Linked DNA regions of Homo sapiens: region 1 is linked to region 2. Evidence: fine-mapped expression QTL. A gene starts in region 2. The other region holds a variant in brackets. All regions are shown on one strand. Distances are between the middles of the regions. Region 1 overlaps LOC107984559 (a long non-coding RNA gene). Region 2 holds the start of FNDC3A (fibronectin type III domain containing 3A).

Region 1 (8,339 bases), 79 kb after region 2:
TGAGCATGTACCTATGCTCATTAGAGTCAGATGTAAGGAAGGACAATGCATTTGTATTTGCACTGAATATTTTCCCTAACTCAATGTCACTTTTATCTTTGGTTTTCATGGAAATGTCAGAGGTAAAAATATTTTGAAACTTTTTAGTTTAAAACCTAGTATAAATCATTTTCAGGAAGAGCTTTAAAATAAATTGGTTGAGTGGAGAAAGCAGCACTTTATAAACATTGTCATTGTGACCTATGAACATCACATTTATTAGTTCCTAGTTTGGTTCCAATTTCTGAAACCTAGTGTTGGGTGGGATGAAGGAAAGACATATAAATGACTTCTTTCTGCTGTGGAGTCAAAACATGTACTTTCCTTAACCTCATTTACACCCACCTATATTTTCCCTCTCTTTGCCAGTTTTTGTACCCATTAATACTTTTTTGAAACAGAAGCTGAAGCCTGGAATTATGGCTGTTGTTATACACATAGGACTTGTTCAACAAAGTGGGTTAAAATTTCTCACTTTTATTTTCAGAAAACCATAGTTAATATTACCAGAAAGAAATAGGTATAAGGAAGGAGTTCCTTTTTACTTAGGAAATCTGAGGGCAGAGAATAACAATTCACCCACTGAATGAACAGATATCTATTAGGTAACTTTTACTATGTCCAGACATTGCTGGAAATTTGGAACAAAAGCTTAGACAAAATGATGAGCATATCAGATACAGCCTTTTTCTTCATGGAACATTTAATCTAGTGGGGGAGACAGACATGAATCAAGTAATAGAAATATATAGTAAAATACAGATGGTCCCCAATTTATGATGATTAAACTTATGAATTTTTTTACTTTAGGATGGTGCTAAAGTGATAGCCATTCAGTAGAAACTGTACTCAGAGTACCCATATAATAATTTTCTTTTTCAGTATCGGTACAGTATTCAACAACTTACATGAAATATTCAACACTTTATTTTAAAATTGGCTTTCTGTTAGAATATTTTGTAACATAATATACATTTTCTGAGTACCTTTAAGGTAGGCTAGGCAAAGCTATGATGTTCAATAAGTTAGATGTATTAAGTGCATTTTCAACTTATGGCATTTTCAATTTAGGATGGGTTTATTGGGACATAACCCCATTGTAAGTCTCTAGCTATCATCTGTAATTAACTGAGAGAATTGCCATGAAGGGAAAGTACACACACAGTATCATTGACAGCTGGGGGAATATAGGCATGGAAGGCTTTTCAAAAGGAGGAATATTTGAGATGTGTTCTGAAGGCTAGGAGAGCAGAGTGGAAGGAGAGAATTTTAGGCAGAGAGAACAGAAGGTATAAGTGTCCCATAGTAGGAATGGGCATGGTGCTGACTGAGAAAAAGCTGAGGATGGGCATAGTGGCTCATGTCTGTAATCCCAGTGCTTTGGGAGGCTTAGGCAGGAGGATCACCTGAGACCAGGAGTTCGAAACCAGCCTGCACAACATAGTGAGACCCCATCGCTACTGAAAATAATAAAAAATAGCTGGGCATGGCATTGCCTGAAGTCTTAGCTACTCAGGAGGCTGAGGTGAGATGATCACTTGAGCCCAGAAGTTTGAGGCTGCAATAAGCTATGCTCCCACCACCATACTTCAGACAGAGAAAGATGCTGTCTTTAAAAAAAATGCTGAAGAGGCTGAAGATGCAGGCAGAATCCAGTGTACCAAGGGCTTGAGGGTTTGGGCACTATGGGGAGGCACTGAAGGGGTGGCCCGACTTGAGTCATGTTCTAAAAACATGTATTGTATGGCACAAACTGGAGACGGGCAAAAGAGGACCCAGGAGGTCAGCCAGAAGGCCATGTTAGTAGCCTAGGTGAAAACAGTAGTGACTTGGACAAAAGTATTGTAAAGGAGATAAAGGAAAATGGATAGATTTAAGAAGCATTAAGGAAGTAGAATTTCCGGGGCAGGAGGTAGACTAACTTGGAGAGTGAGAGAGAAGGCATTTGGACAGGAAATTACATCTTCTCTCATAGGTGGCTGCACACTGGAGGAAACTTACCATTTCTGGGCGTATGTTACTTGAGATGGGTCTGAGAATGGGTCCTATCTTATCAGTTAGAGATGAGAAATGCTCTTTAAGGGGAAGGGAAAGATATTGGAATGAAAGAGAAAAGAGTAATATAATCCAAGGTACAACACAAGTGGAAGAGTAGGGTGAAAGGATTAGGGTAGGAGGGAAGACAGAAATGTGAGTGGTGAGGCAAGAAAGAGAGGTTGGGACTGGATTAAGTGTAAAGATAGGGGTAGGAAAGATAGATGTAGAGCTGTGAATTCATCTAAGAAGTTGATACTATTCTCCACACAGTGAACTCAGGAGATTAAAATTACAACGAATGGTGCCATGGCTCTAAGGTTCCAAGTCTGGATGGGTAGAATCGTGGATGGTCTATTGTCAACAATAAAAAAGTCTTGTTTTTAAGTTAGAGGTGCTGGTAGCACTTTTCAGTAGAATTATTTATCAGGCATTAGAAAATGTATATGACTTGAAGTTCAGGACTGAAGATGTGGATTTGGAAGTCATCCTCAAATAGTTAAAGCTGGGTTGGGGCAAGGGCGAAATTGATGAGATCACCAAGGAATTAAGTGTAAGAATTTTAGAAAATAGACCCAATGCAACAGCCTTGGGAAATGTCCTATAGAAAGGGCATAAAGAATGGTTGTTGATGACAGGAGCAGAGAAGAGCCATCAGAAAGGCAGGAAATGAGCAAGAGGAATGTAGTATCAGAGAAAGCGGGGTGGTTGAGAGTTGCAGGAGAAATAAAGGTATTAACAATGATAAATTTCTCACCCTTTGGGTCTTAGGTTAATATTGAAAGGTCTGGGGAGCTGGGTGCTGTGGCTCATGCCTATAATCCCAGCACTTTGGGAGGTGGGAGGATCATGAGGTCAGGAGATCGAGACCATCCTGGCTAACATGGTGAAACCCTATCTTTACTAAAAATACAAAAATTAGCTGGGTGTGATGGTGGGCACCTGTAATCCCAACTACTCAGGAGGCTGAGGCAGGAGACTCACTTGAACCCAGGAGCTGGAGATTGCAGTGAGCCAAGATCATGCCACTGCATTCCAGCCTGAGCAACAGAGCAAGACTCCATCTAAAATAAAATAAAATAAAATAAAATAAAATAAAATAAA[ATAAAG/G]GTCTGGGGAAAAGCTCCTTAGGCTTGAAGCAAAGACACAGAAAAGAGAGGACCAAAAGACTATAGGGAGGGAAGGCAAGCATCAGAGAAGGTGCTCAGGAAATCCTTTTTGAACAAGGAAGGGTGAACAGTGGACCAACCATTACGTACCTGGGAAGTTCTTGGTGGTATCCCCAAAGTTTTTAATTAATAGCTGTGGAGCTTCCATTGTTTTCCATTGTGTCCTAAAAACCATAAAATAATGCAGCTGAAACGAGTAATTCACTCTTAGGTGTTTTCTGGTCTTTGTTTGATACTCAGTATAGAGTTATCTTAAAAGCTCTCAATCCACTTGCTCAGCAACTTCAGAAATTGCTACAGAAATCACTGGTTGGGCTTCCAGTCTTGGTGCAATGGACATGCTGATGTCTGCTGCTTCCTTCCACACAGTCTTCTTGGGTAGCACAGTCAGGAGTCACCAGGTTCCTATAAAAGAAATCATCAGTTGATAGCTAAAGATAGGCCCAATTACAGTACCTGGCAGGCATCTTGCACTCTTTTGGTTAGATTACAGGACCCAGAAGGGACTATCTGGAAGGCATTATGAGATTTCTCTCAGCTTTACAGAGTTTCTTGTTGGAATCATATCCAAAGGACAAGGGTGAGTGGCTGGTTGCCTGTCAGTAGGCAATTTGTTGGCTGCATAAGCTGCAAAATGTGTATAGCCACCCACATTAGACATATTTATGTTTAGCTATATATTAGAAATAGAAATATGCAATTGAAATTAAAAGAGCATTGCTCTGCTGTAACACCTTCCTACCACTCCTCATCAGAGCACATAGTCATATCAGCAAGCCCTCTTGGAAGGGGCACAGACATGGGAGTCAGGAAGACTAGGTTCTAAATCCCTGCTCTGTACCTACTAATATGGCCCCAGTCAAGTTACATCACATTTCTGGGTCTCAGATTCATAATGTAAAAACAGGAAGTATTGTAATTGGACCTATCTTCAGCTGTACACTGATGACTCATGAATCCACATCTTTGCTGAGATCTTGCTCCTAAGTTATTTACCCTTATGTCCAATAGCTTCCTGGGCAATCTCTATGTAGATGTTTCACAGGCAACTCAAACTCAATTCTTCTACAGATCAGGGCATTTTACCTGCTGAGAGTGGGAAGTAGGGGTGGAGCATTCCCAGAATTCAGGATGGAGAGGCCCTCGTTCACCTTATATGAAGCCGAGGCTGTACGGGAAGTAAGGGAACACCCCTATCACCTCTTCTTCCCATTGGTGTGTGAGGGTGCCACTTAGCTATTGACTGTGTACCTTTGAGAAGTTGCCTAATTTCTTTGTGCCTTGGTTTGTGCATGTATAACCTGAGGGGGTCGGACAGGACCATCTCTAAGGTCTCTTCCAACTCTAATGTGATTTGATTTTTTTTTTTAATTGAGACGGAGTCTCACTCTGTTGCCCAAGGTGGAGTTCAGTGGCACCATCACAGCTCACTACAACATCTACTTCCCAGGCTCAAGGGGTCCTCCCACCTCAGCCTCCCCAATAGCTGTGTCTCCAGATGCATGCTACCATACCTGGCTAATTTTTTGTACTTTTTGTACAGATGGGCTTTCCCTATGTTGCCCAAGCTTGTTTCTAACTCTTGGGCTCAAGCAATCTGCCCGCCTCAGCCTTCCAGATTTGATTTTACTTTGTAGTTACTCCTTTCCTCCTTAAGTCTTTTATGTTTCATTTATTTCTCTTTCTTGACACCCCTTCCCCTCCTTTCTAAGTGTATAGGTTGGTGGTGAAAAGAAGGTTGAAAAATCTTAGGGAAACTAGACAAGAATGCATATGTTATCTGTTCTATACTTGGGTCCTCTATGTATTGACTTCTGTTTTCAACTTAAGCCCATGAAAAATAGGCTTAAGTTGATCCTTCAGATATTCTAGGATATTTTCAAAGTGGCCCAGATTGAACTGGTTTTTAACTTGGAGGCATTGGTCTCAGTCACACCATCTATCAGCAATTCCATTGTTTTTTGTCAGAAATATTGTCTCTAATCAGCAACTTTAGCCAAATGTCTCTATGAAGATGCATCATCAAAGGGAAAGAAGTCTATTCAGAATATCTTTCAAACCAAATTTCAGTAACTTTAGTAAATAGTAAGATTTCCATTGGAATGAGGTCACCTGATGGCTCAGGCTTCCCAAGGTGCCATGTTAGTACATATCTAGGAATTCCTCTGTCAATTGCTGATATGGCTGATTCCTTGTCATTGTTCAAAATTCAGCTCAAATGTCATCTTCTTGTAGAACACTGCCTTGACCATCCTAGCTAAACCAGTCTTCCAACTGCTTGGTCACTTTACCACATCATTGCTTTTCATTATTATAGCATTTATCACTGCCTGAAATTACAGTGTTCATTTATTTGTTTATTCCTTGTCTTTTCCTTCACAAAATGAGAGCTCAATGGAAACTGGAAGTTTATTCACCTTGTTCACTAATATATAGCCAGCAGTTAGACAAGGGCACATAGAAAGTAAGTGCTTGAGTACATACCATGGTGAATAAATCAACTTTTGGAATGTGCAAGAGTTTACCTAATACATTCACCCAACAACCTCAAATGTCAGGTCTTCCATCTGACTGCTGTGGAAATGGGTTAATAGCCTTAAGGGTTTTAACACTGGACTAGGTGGTCTTTTATACAATCTGATATTCTCTGCTTTCCAGCCATACTATATCACTAATTAGCTAGGTAATGCTATCTATATGGAAATTATAAAGATACATTCACACATTTATCTTTACTAAAATTCTTACTGCTTGAAATAAATAATGATCAATAACACTTTTATTTTTTAAATGTAGTTTTCTTTTTTAAAAAGCTGAATAATCCTTTCTTCAAATGAAAAGCTTATGAGGAAGCCTAATACATATGAGACAAAATGAAGTCAACTGAAAGAAATAAGAATGAGGCAGAAGACGGGGAAGATTTACAGTTTTATCTACTCCCCGGAAGTAAAACCCTTTTCCTCATTGCAGCCCCTGGAATAGTTTGATTATTACTGGATTATAATAATAATAATAAGTAATTTTTTTGAGTAATTAGTAGGTACCAAGTACTTTACATGTATCATCTTGTCAATTCTCATAACACCCCTATGAAATAAGTATATTGTTATTGTCTGTATTTCGCGAATAAGGAGACTAAGGTTTAAAGAGCTAAAAGTAGCTCGCTCAATATCTTTGTGGTAGTCATTTTCCAAGATAGCTGCCAGTGATTTTCACATTCTGGTGTCAGTGCCTTGAGTAGTCCCCTTTCACATTAAATCTGGGGTGGACAGTGTGACCAGTAGAACATGGCAGAGTTGATGGGATATAAATTGCAAGGTGAAGCCATAAAGGCATTGGAGCTGCTTTGCTTTCCTGGGTCACTGTGGGGTAAGCCAGTTGCCATGTCATCAGAACATTCAAGCAACCAGTGGAGAGGTCCATGTGAAAGGAAATTAATCTCCCTGCCCATAACCTCCACCAACTTGTCATGTGAGTAAGCTGCCTTAAATGTAGATCTTCCAACCCCAGTCTAATTTTCAGATGACTGTAGCCCTAGCCAATATCTGACTGCAACCTCATGAGAAACCTTGTGTCCAAGACCACCCAGCCAAGCTGCTCCCCAAATCTGACCTACAGAAACTGTGGAAGACAAAAAAAATGATTATTGCTGTCATAAGCCAGAAAGTTTTGGGGGTGATTTGCTATACAGAATAAGGTAACTGGTTCAGCCTTGCAGACAGTTAAATGGCAGAACCAACATATTTAACCCCAAATGTCATTCTAGAACCTATTCTCTTAACCATGAATGCTCTGTTTGCTTACACACTCATTTTTAACACAAAGTTAAAAGTTATTCAAGCATCTCACAAACTCCATGTCACAGATAAGAAAACTGAGGCATGAAGAGGTTAAAAACATAATTGGTGATGACCAAGTGTGGTGGCTCACTCCTGTAATCCCAGCATTTTGGGAGGCTGAGGCAGATGGATCACCTGAGGTCAGGAGTTTGAGACCAGCCTGGCCAACATGGTGAAACTCCATCTCTACTAAAACTACAAAAATCAGCCAGGTGTGGGGGCAGGTGCCTGTAGTCCCAGCTACTTGGGAAGCTGAGGCAGGAGAATCGCTTGAACCTGGGGAGGCGGAGGTTGCAGTGAGCCAAGATTGCACCACTGCACTCTAGCCTGGGCAACAGAGAGAGACTCCATCTCAAAAAAAAAAAAAAAAAAAAAAAGAAAGAAAGAAAAAAAAATTAATTGGTGGCCGGGTGGCCTAATTCCAAGACCTATTCTCTTAGTCACTATGCTACGTTGATGTCATTATCAGAATTATCCTTCAATAATATTAAACTGGAGATGGAATGCCAAGAATAGAATGAAAAGGAAAGAGCCTAGAGGTGTGCACTTTCACTGGGAGGCTTTTGCAATTATTGAGGAAAACAGTTATTTGAAAGAAACAAGGCCTCTGTCGTGGAGAGTAACTACTGAAATATTTCTCAAAATATCCTTGATACCACTATCAGCTACTGAAGATTTGGATGAGCAGGCTCTTGGTGTGACACAATACGATATTTCTTGTATTGCAACAACCTCTTCTCATTGGTCAATCTTCCAGAAGAAACTTAACCATGGTCATTGCCCAACCCATTCTCCCAAATGATGAGAGTTGAACCAATTGAAGATTGCTTTCAGCATTCGCTATTATGTTTAGTCTCTGTTTTCCTGTAGCACCCTAATAATTGTCTTTATATTAAAATATACATGACTGTTTTTGAAAGAGGAAAGATAATGGACCAAGATTTTCTGTCTTTGAAGTAAGCTAACGAATCAGTATAATTGGAACGAGAAATCCTGGCACAGGAAGAGAGAACTGATTGTGCTCTGTCCTTGGTAGAATTTTGAGTCATTCATGCAGTATAGTGTCTGGAGAGTTCTAGTGAGTCATGCATTGCTAACTATGGAAGAAAAATGTATTTTCTAAAGTTGTCTGTTATTACTCATGTCTTTCAGTCAGGATCAGCAGATGCTGGTATCCTATTGACTGGTGATCTAATAGAAAGTTTCTCATAGACAGGTCTGACACAATTTCCCTCTAACTCTGATAAATTTGGCACAA
Region 2 (8,339 bases):
ACTTTCTTTCTTTCTTCGTCCCAATTTCTGTCCTTGGATGCTCTTGGACTACTTATTCTACTACTACTTCCAACTCTGCCTGTGAATCTCTTTTGGAATGCCTTTCCTTTTGTTATCTAAATCATTTCTAAGTTTCCTCTGACTCCCTCCAAATGCCTTCCAGGATTGTTCTAGCTCTCACTGGCTTCACTTCCCTTTAAATTCCAGTTGGTGTCACACAACTTAATAATACCATATTATAATTTTTGCTAATGATACTATTAGTCTAGTACCCCCAACTAATTTGTAAACTACTTGAAGGAAGGAAGACATCACACTATGTTTGTATCCCCACTTTAATAACATTGCATCACCCTGCAAGCACATGACATCTCCCAGGTGTAGTTCTCAATCTTGGAGGAAAAAATAGCCCAAGGACTGGTAATGGGTGATAAGTGATTGGAAACATTGAAAGATGACACCCACAAAGGAACTTGATGGAAGACCACAGGTTACACAGAAAACTTGAAAGTATATATTAAAGACAAGCAAAACCACAACAGTGGGAAGACAGAAAGGTAAGAATAAAGATATAAAAAGAGACCACTGAATAATTATCTGAAATAAGACCAAAATATTAAGAAAATTATAAAAGCTCACAATACATGTAAAAGTACAAAATTTGCCTTTCAACATTAATGGCCACTAATTTCGTTTTAACAAGTAGTTTTTGACATTCACACATATGGGAGCCATATTTCTTGTTTTGCAATGTGATAAACTGAAGCAGTAAAAGGCTCAATGGAATAAATATGCACCATATTCTAAACCTTCGGAATTACAATATTGTGAGTTTATTTGAAGTCCGCTAGGCAATGCTAAAAACAAAACAAAAAAAACAAAAGCAAACAAAAAAAAACCAGAAACACTAATCACTTAGTTATCTGGCTAATAAAATTGGAAATCATGTGCATATCCCTACACCATTCTCAAAGACACGATCTAGATTCATTTTCATTCAAAAATGCACCAACAATGTTTCAAAAAAAAAACGTTTTTGGTTACTTCATCAAATTGTATTTTAAAAATACTGGCAGATTATAAAATACACAAGCCTTGGATGTCATGAACATCTTAAAAAATGCAAATGTTTTAAAACAGCGCAAATATTACTAAAAATTGATAAAGTATAAATTAAATGCTCTTTGCCTAAAACTACAAAAGACAATGAGAATATGAATCATGCATTCCCTCTTTTTTTCGGGGGGTTAAGGATGTCTCAGCCCTTAGCTATGTCTGGCTGGTCAGGGAAGAGGGAGAAATTTTTAAATTAGTAATAAAATATGCTTACTATTATATTGTAGAAATGTGACTAGTAAAGAGTAATCATTACATGTGTGTTAAAATAAATCAGGTCTCAATTACTCACACAGATAGAGGAAGTGAAGACACAGACGTCACCAAAAGAAGATAATCCTAGAATGTTTTTTTTAATGCTTATTATTAATTTGGGATAAATTAATTACCCTTATAACTATGCTTGACAGTGTTAACCAGGATTTTATTTTTCCGGAGCATTCAATGATTTGGAGGATTCAGACAAAAGGGAAAAAGAGGGAGTTAATTCAGAAGCATACAGGTGGCTAACGGTAGCCAGCCTGGGATAAAAAATTTTCCAGTTAACCTACACATAGAAAACTAACAGATGATCTATGAAATGAAACAAGACAATATAGTAAAATTTAATGTAGTAGTGCTAAAAAATTTAAATATAAGATTTAATATTAAAATTTTAACAAGATGTTTCTCCTGTCATCATCCCTTCTTCCCACTAACTGGTGTGATTAGAAAGCAAGATTAGTAGGCTACAAAGCTAAAAGCAACATTTCAGGTTATATTTCATAAAAGATGTGGTAAAAATCCTTCATCACTGTTTTCTGTTGGGCCACCATCTGTCTCAGTGAGTACTTCATCTCATTACTTAAGAAAAATTAATTCAACCAAGAAAATATCCAAAAGACAGGGGATTCAACTCACTTGAACATTTGTGGGTGACACAAGATGACAAGAGTTAGTAAATACGCAAAAACTAAATATTTATCCAAACATAAGATCAGAACCACAAAACTCAATTCGTTTCTGCCTAACATATGGCTCAAACTCCTGAGTGGCGTATGTTTAGTACTGGAGCTGGTAACAGCATGGTGATAAAATATTATAGTAAGAGTTCAACTGTTATTTCATTCCTACAATACAGAAGCATACACACTTTGGTTTCAAGAACTAAAAAACACAGACCACAGTAAGAAGCAAAATAATTACGTTGTTCGGTTTTAAAAACCCATAGTGAACACATAATGATTATACCGCAAAAAGAAAAAAAAAATCTCATCAGCCTGCGACTCTTATTTAATAGATGGTCAGACACAAAGGTGTCCAAAGGAACTTACGTAAAATCTCACAAAAGAAAATCTCGAATTCACAATCTCTAGCACCCCCAGCAAATCATCGCATTCCACCCTCTAAAATATCCCAAGGCTTGTAACGCTAACAGTTGAATAAAAGAACAATTAACGACCACATCCATTAAAACAGTCCCTCTTCTGCTCGCAATCTGACAGCGAAATTATCTGTTCATTTTCCTTTACCTAACACATGACGTCGTTTCCAAAGCCGTGTCAAAAGTTCGAAGATCCAGGTTGTTAAAACCGGGCGAGGACTGCAGCCTCGAGTCCACCTCCCGACTGAACAGGTGGTTAACTCGCCCGGGGAGAGGAACTGCCAGGTACTGGAAGCAGCCACGCAGGATCAAACAGAGGGCGGGTTTTCGAGGTTTTAACCCCAAGATGAGCGGGGAAAACTCTCTTCAGAAAAGCGTTCAAGTTCGGCGGCTGCCGGGCGGCCAAAGCCGAAGGCGCCGCGGGTGCTGGGCGATCCTCTCAGGAGGATTCCGCCCCAGCCCCCGCCCCCGCCCCCGCCCCCGAGCCCTCCGGAGCTACGCGGCTCGCCGCGGGGAGGAGGCGGGGGACAGAGAGAAGGGCCGCCCGCGCACCAGCGCCACCTCCCTCGGGCTAGATGCCGCCTCCTCTTGGGCTGGATGGCGCCCCCGGCCGCGCCCCCGCAAGCGTGTCCTGGCTAGGCTCGGCCCCGGCAGGTGCCCGACTAGTAGACCGGTCCTGTCCCCGGCCCCACTGCCCCTCTGCACCTCTGCCCACAGCGCGCCCACAGAAGGGGGTGGTCCGCGCCCCTCGACGGGGCCGAGCCCTGGAGAGTGCCCCGGCCCTCAGTCCCAGCCTAACGGTTTCCGCGGCGCCTCCTCCGGGGCGGGACGGGGTTGGGACGGCTCGGTGTCCCCCGCCTTTCGCGGAGGGAGTGCCCGCGCTCTCACCTCCGAGTCACGCCGTTCTGAGGCAGAAGGCGGCTCCTCTGGCGCCTCTTCTTAGGGTTCCTGATCGTTGTCTCTCTACCTCAGCTGCAGAGTCAGCTCTCAGGGCCGCCGCGGCCGCCGGCGCGCTGACTGTTGGGGTTGTTTCCTGGCAGTGACGCCGCCGCCTCAGCCCCGCTCTTCGCTCCCTCTCCGCGTAGCTCCCGCTTTCTGTTTCACCCGAGGGACCACGAACGCCGCCGCCGCCATGCTTACTACGGAGCCGGGAGGAGGAGCCCGAAGTCGGCGCGCCGAGTGCGGCTGCGCGGGCCCCGCCGACGGAGCCCGCGGCCGGGACCCCGAACCCCCGCCTCGAGCCCGCCGCGCCGGGGCTCTCTCACCGGAACGCGAGTCCCCGCGGGGCCACCGGCGCGTGGCGGCTGAGCGGCCGCGTTTGGCTCCCGGAGCGCCCACACCCTCTCGGGCTTCCGGCTTTCTCCCGAGGCCCGGCTGCGCCTGGCTTGTGGTAGCATCCGCTGTGGCCAGGCTCGGAGCTACACTCAGGAAAAGTGGAGTTAATGGAGGTTCCTAGAGACACTCACACAATTCTCAATCCACATTTCAAAAGGCTCCCCTGAGACGCACCCTGTCGGCCCCTTTCCGAAAGCACGCGAACTTAAGGCTGGCAGGTGCTTTAAAAGACACTCCTCCCAAGGACTAGGAAGCCTCTGAAATGGGCTTGGAAGTTTCTAATCCCAAAGACTTCGAACCCAGGATCTGGATAGCAAGCAAAAATATTTAGATATTTACTCAGTTGAAAACGTGGGGGGTGGCTTCGTGGTCTCTTCGCCAGCCAAATCGCGTGGAAAACCACGACCTCAATTTTTACAACAGCACGAAGACTTACAAGTGAGCGTAGCAGCGACTTCCTGGAACCTCAAACAATGTGGGACGCTGCAATAATGCCTGAGGGCTTTTGACTTACAGTTGCCGCCGGAGACCTGGGGAGGGGGTAGTACTTGGGCCGGTGAGTCCAGCCTCAGGAACTGTCCTTTCAAAAATGGTGATGGATGTAACAAGTTGCATGTCTGGGCTTTATTTCAGTGTATTAATTGTGCGATCTTTTAAAATAGCTGTATTTTTAAAACTGTTTTACAGAAATCTCTTTAAAATGTGATTATTCTCTATATTCTTAAAGAATACAATGGCTAATTAAATCCTTTGTTGATAACTGACTCTCAAACCGATATCTTGGCCATACGTTTAAGTCCCAGAGGATTGCTGCGGTGTATAGAATCCCTACTTTGGTGCTCTCTTTTTTTCCCTCTTTGGAATGTTCTCATCACCTCTTCTAAAATCCTTCACTGCTTTTCATCTCCTCATCTGCCTCTATCCACTCTGATCCTTCCTCTTATTCTTTCTGCTTTACTGTTTATTTTTCATTCTTCTCTCCTTTCTCGGCTGGTTTTCTCTGCGGCTCCAGGTGAAGATTGATGGGATGTTTATGTCCACAGCCAGCTAATGAGAGGTTTCTTTTCTTCTGGTTGTAAATAGGGCAGTGGTATCTTGAGATATTTTCATTGCTCTTCACTATCAGAAGTTCTTTCCCTGTGAGAGATGTTTCCTTTTCTTAACTTTTGGATTTGGCCCTCTTCGAGACAGCTGGCAAGTTGATCTTGGAATAATTGAAGTATAACTGTATATTGTTTCAAAGTATGAGGATTTTATCAGAGTGTGGGCGAATGGGGTGGCTTCCCCATCTTACTGCCCAACTATGCTTGGTCTGAGACTAAGATAGTGGTTTCCAAACTTACCGCTAAGCTAATACTTTCCTACTCTGCTTCCTACTCAGGAGCTTTTTGAAAATACAGAATCCTGCAATCTACCCCCTCAAGATTCTGATTCCTTTGTCCAGGGAGAGGCCAAGACATGGCACTTTTAAAAACTATATTTAAAAAAATATGTTTGGGACATGCCTACATGTAAAGGCAGAGTAAAGAAGATCAGCTGTTTTTGAAGGAGATTAACACATAATTTAAGAATGTTATTGAAGACCTAGAGATTGTAGTCAATAATATGCAATGCAGTAAGGTGAAGTAAAGTGAAGACCAAGGAATTTATGGCCTTTGGAGAGAAGAAAACCCACACATAAATGACCCTAGCATGTGCACCAGTATGAGTTCTCTGGGAACAGAGAGAGGGTCAAGAAATTATGTTGGCTTTGAACAAGTTCTCTTCTCAATGCTTCACTTTTTTTTTATCAATAAAATGGGAGCCATTTTCAATCCTCATCTTTCTTGGCCTCTCAACAATACTCAACACTTTGACCACTATTCTTTCTTAAACATTTCTTCTTCCTTTGACACTGCATTTTCTTGGTTTTCCTCCTTAGTTTCCTAGGCACTGCTTCTCTGATTCCTTTGCATATTCCTGCTGGTCTCCCTAACTATTAAATATAACAGTACCTTAAAATTCAGTTTTAGATTCTTTTCTGTTTTCATTGTAATCTCTTGGCCTAAGCAGCATCACCCACGCCAATGGCTTTAGTTATCATCTATATGCCAGTGATCTCCACATATATGCCTCCAGCCCAGACCTTTCCTCTAAATTCCAAATCTGATCCACTAGTCAAAGTTTGACCCTACCTCTAAATTCCAAGCTTCACTGACATGGCCACTTAATATCTCAAAGTTGCAAAGTTTAGTCCAACTGAGTTCATGAACACTTGTTTTCCTTATCCCCCATCTCTCTAGTTATTCAAATCAAATATCTAGTAGTCAGTAACCGCTGATGTCTCCCTCACCTCCATTCTTCCATTCTCCATATTTGTTGCAGCACTAACTCCTGGCAATTTTATTTCTAAAATCTAATTGGTCTACTTCTTTCCAATCACCACCAATCTAATTCGATCTCACTGTATACAATCTGGGATCCTCCATTCAGTCTCCATTTTGCAGCCAAAATTATCCTCTAAGAAAGCAAATGAGACTATGTCACTACTCCAAAAATCTCCTTAAACAGTTTCTCATTGCTTTAGGATAAGTCTAGAATTCTTAAGGCAGCCTAAAAGACCATACGAGGTCTGGCCTTACCTGCCTTTTCCAGCCTCATCTCACACCATTTTCACCTTGTTTCCTGGGCAGACTTCCTGGTCTTCTTTTAGTTTCTCAAAAATGCTATGATCCCAACAACCAAAGGCTCTATGTACATGCCATTCTCTCCTTTAGTTATCCTATCTCTTACTCATCCTTCAGGTCTCAGCTTGAAAGCGACATCCTTGGGAAAAACATTTCTGACCTCCCAGATACATTCAAGATACCTTGTTATGTCAGCTCTCTTACCACCATATACCCTCCCCTCTTATGACTTACCACAGCTTGTAACTACATTTTGGTATGTGTAACTACTAGGTTAATGTCTGTTGCTCCCCACATTAGGATAAAGACCATGTCTATTTGGGCCTGCACAGTGCCTGGCACATAGAAGCTACCCAATAAATATTTCTTGAATGATTATTGTCCTATGAGTTTATTTCTGGGATTCTAGAAGGTTGTTAGATCGGGAAATTAGATCACTGATCATTTTCAAGAGAGCAATCTTCTGTATGACTAGTGGGAAGAAATGCAGAAATGTGCTGGAAGACAATTCTCTGTGGGACTCTAGTATTTCTGCATGTCTTGTGAGCAGAGGCACTAACAGCTTTTGTTTTAGACTATATTTTCAAGGATTTTTTTTTTTTTTTGGTCAAACTGCCTTGGAAAATATACATAGTGTCCCCTGCCCTGCTCCCCCTCCCCGCCAAGAGCAGGGGCACATTTGTTTACCATCCAATATAGTGAAGATAATGTCTTTGGAGGTAAAGGTCAAGCAGGTTTTCTTGCAGCCTATTATAAAAAGATTGGGGATTTCCTAAGCTTAGATAGAGTTTCTCAGCTGTGAGGCAAACCCACTGCAGGTGCATCACTCACCTGAACCACACCATGTAGCTCCAGGTAAGACCTGGGGGCAAGGGAACTGACTGAACATGACACTGGCGCTGCTTGCTGTGCCATGAGTAATACAGCCCTTTGACTGCAAAGCCCCACGTCTTCTGCCAGCTTCCATGAAACTATAGCAGGTTAAGTGATTAGCTTGCAAGGAGGATGAAATCTCAGACCTTTCATAGTTCTTGACAAAGTACAGTGGGTTAAAGAGAAAGACGAAGATGAAGAAGTCAAACAGCAAGTGGAGACTATTTAGAAAGTTTGGAAAAAAAAGTTTGGTGATGAAGAGGAGAGATGGGACAGCAGATTGAGGTGGGAGGGGTGTGCTGACTGAATTCTCTGAACAATATTGGTGGCCTTAACTCTGAACAGATCCCGACAGAACACTATTGCTGTTGTTCCTCTCTTTGGTTAGGGAACAGGTGCAAATCTGAAAGAGGAGAAGGAGATGGAAGTGGTTGACCTGGAGGTACACCAGTTAAAGCAGCCAGAGCTTTTTTTTTTTTAATCTCTGAGAAGGGGTGTAGTATAATGTGGAGCAGGAAAGACAGGCTTTGGAGTCAGGTAGATCTGGGCTTCAGTCGCAGCTCTATTACTAACTGATTGATTGATCGATCTTAGGCTTGTTATCCAACCTTTCTGGCTTCAGTTCCTCAACTATAAACTAAGGATAAAATACCTACTTTGCAGGATTAAATTTCATAATGTATGAAGATGCCTGGTATATGCTTGATGCTCAATAAATAAATGTGAGCTACATGATTAGGATGTCCTGGCTAATTGTGATTTGGTGAGGTTGGGAAAATCCAGAACCTTCCTCCACATTTCCAAGGATTCTTGGAAAGGAACTTGGCCAGGGTGCACACTTGCTCTGATCCTGTTCCCGTTTCCATCCCACTCTGTGCTTTCCTATGGATGGAACAGCTCCTTCCCTAAAAGCAAAGGAAACAAGACACAGAATAGGAAGCGACTTCACATTTAATGTTGGCCATTCCCACCACAGGGAATTTCTC

The links. PIP is the estimated chance that this variant, and not a neighbour inherited with it, causes the effect.
Region 1: its variant is fine-mapped to the expression of FNDC3A in whole blood (INTERVAL, PIP above 0.99).

What each region holds. Positions count from the first base shown.
Region 1 is chr13:48,892,352-48,900,690 of GRCh38, reverse strand. It overlaps LOC107984559 (a long non-coding RNA gene), which reads right to left. Exons shown (of 3, transcript XR_001749987.2): 3 at 3,256-3,647. Among named protein-coding and RNA genes, the nearest start is that of FNDC3A, 79 kb to the left of the region's middle. The variant ATAAAG/G (reference allele first, on the strand shown) is at 3,178.
Region 2 is chr13:48,971,206-48,979,544 of GRCh38, reverse strand. FNDC3A (fibronectin type III domain containing 3A) reads right to left here and starts at 3,633. Exons shown (of 26, transcript NM_001079673.2): 1 at 3,368-3,633. RefSeq lists enhancers at 2,599-2,698, 2,859-3,478, 3,369-3,668, 3,479-4,098, 4,369-4,428 and silencers at 2,839-3,318, 3,649-3,918.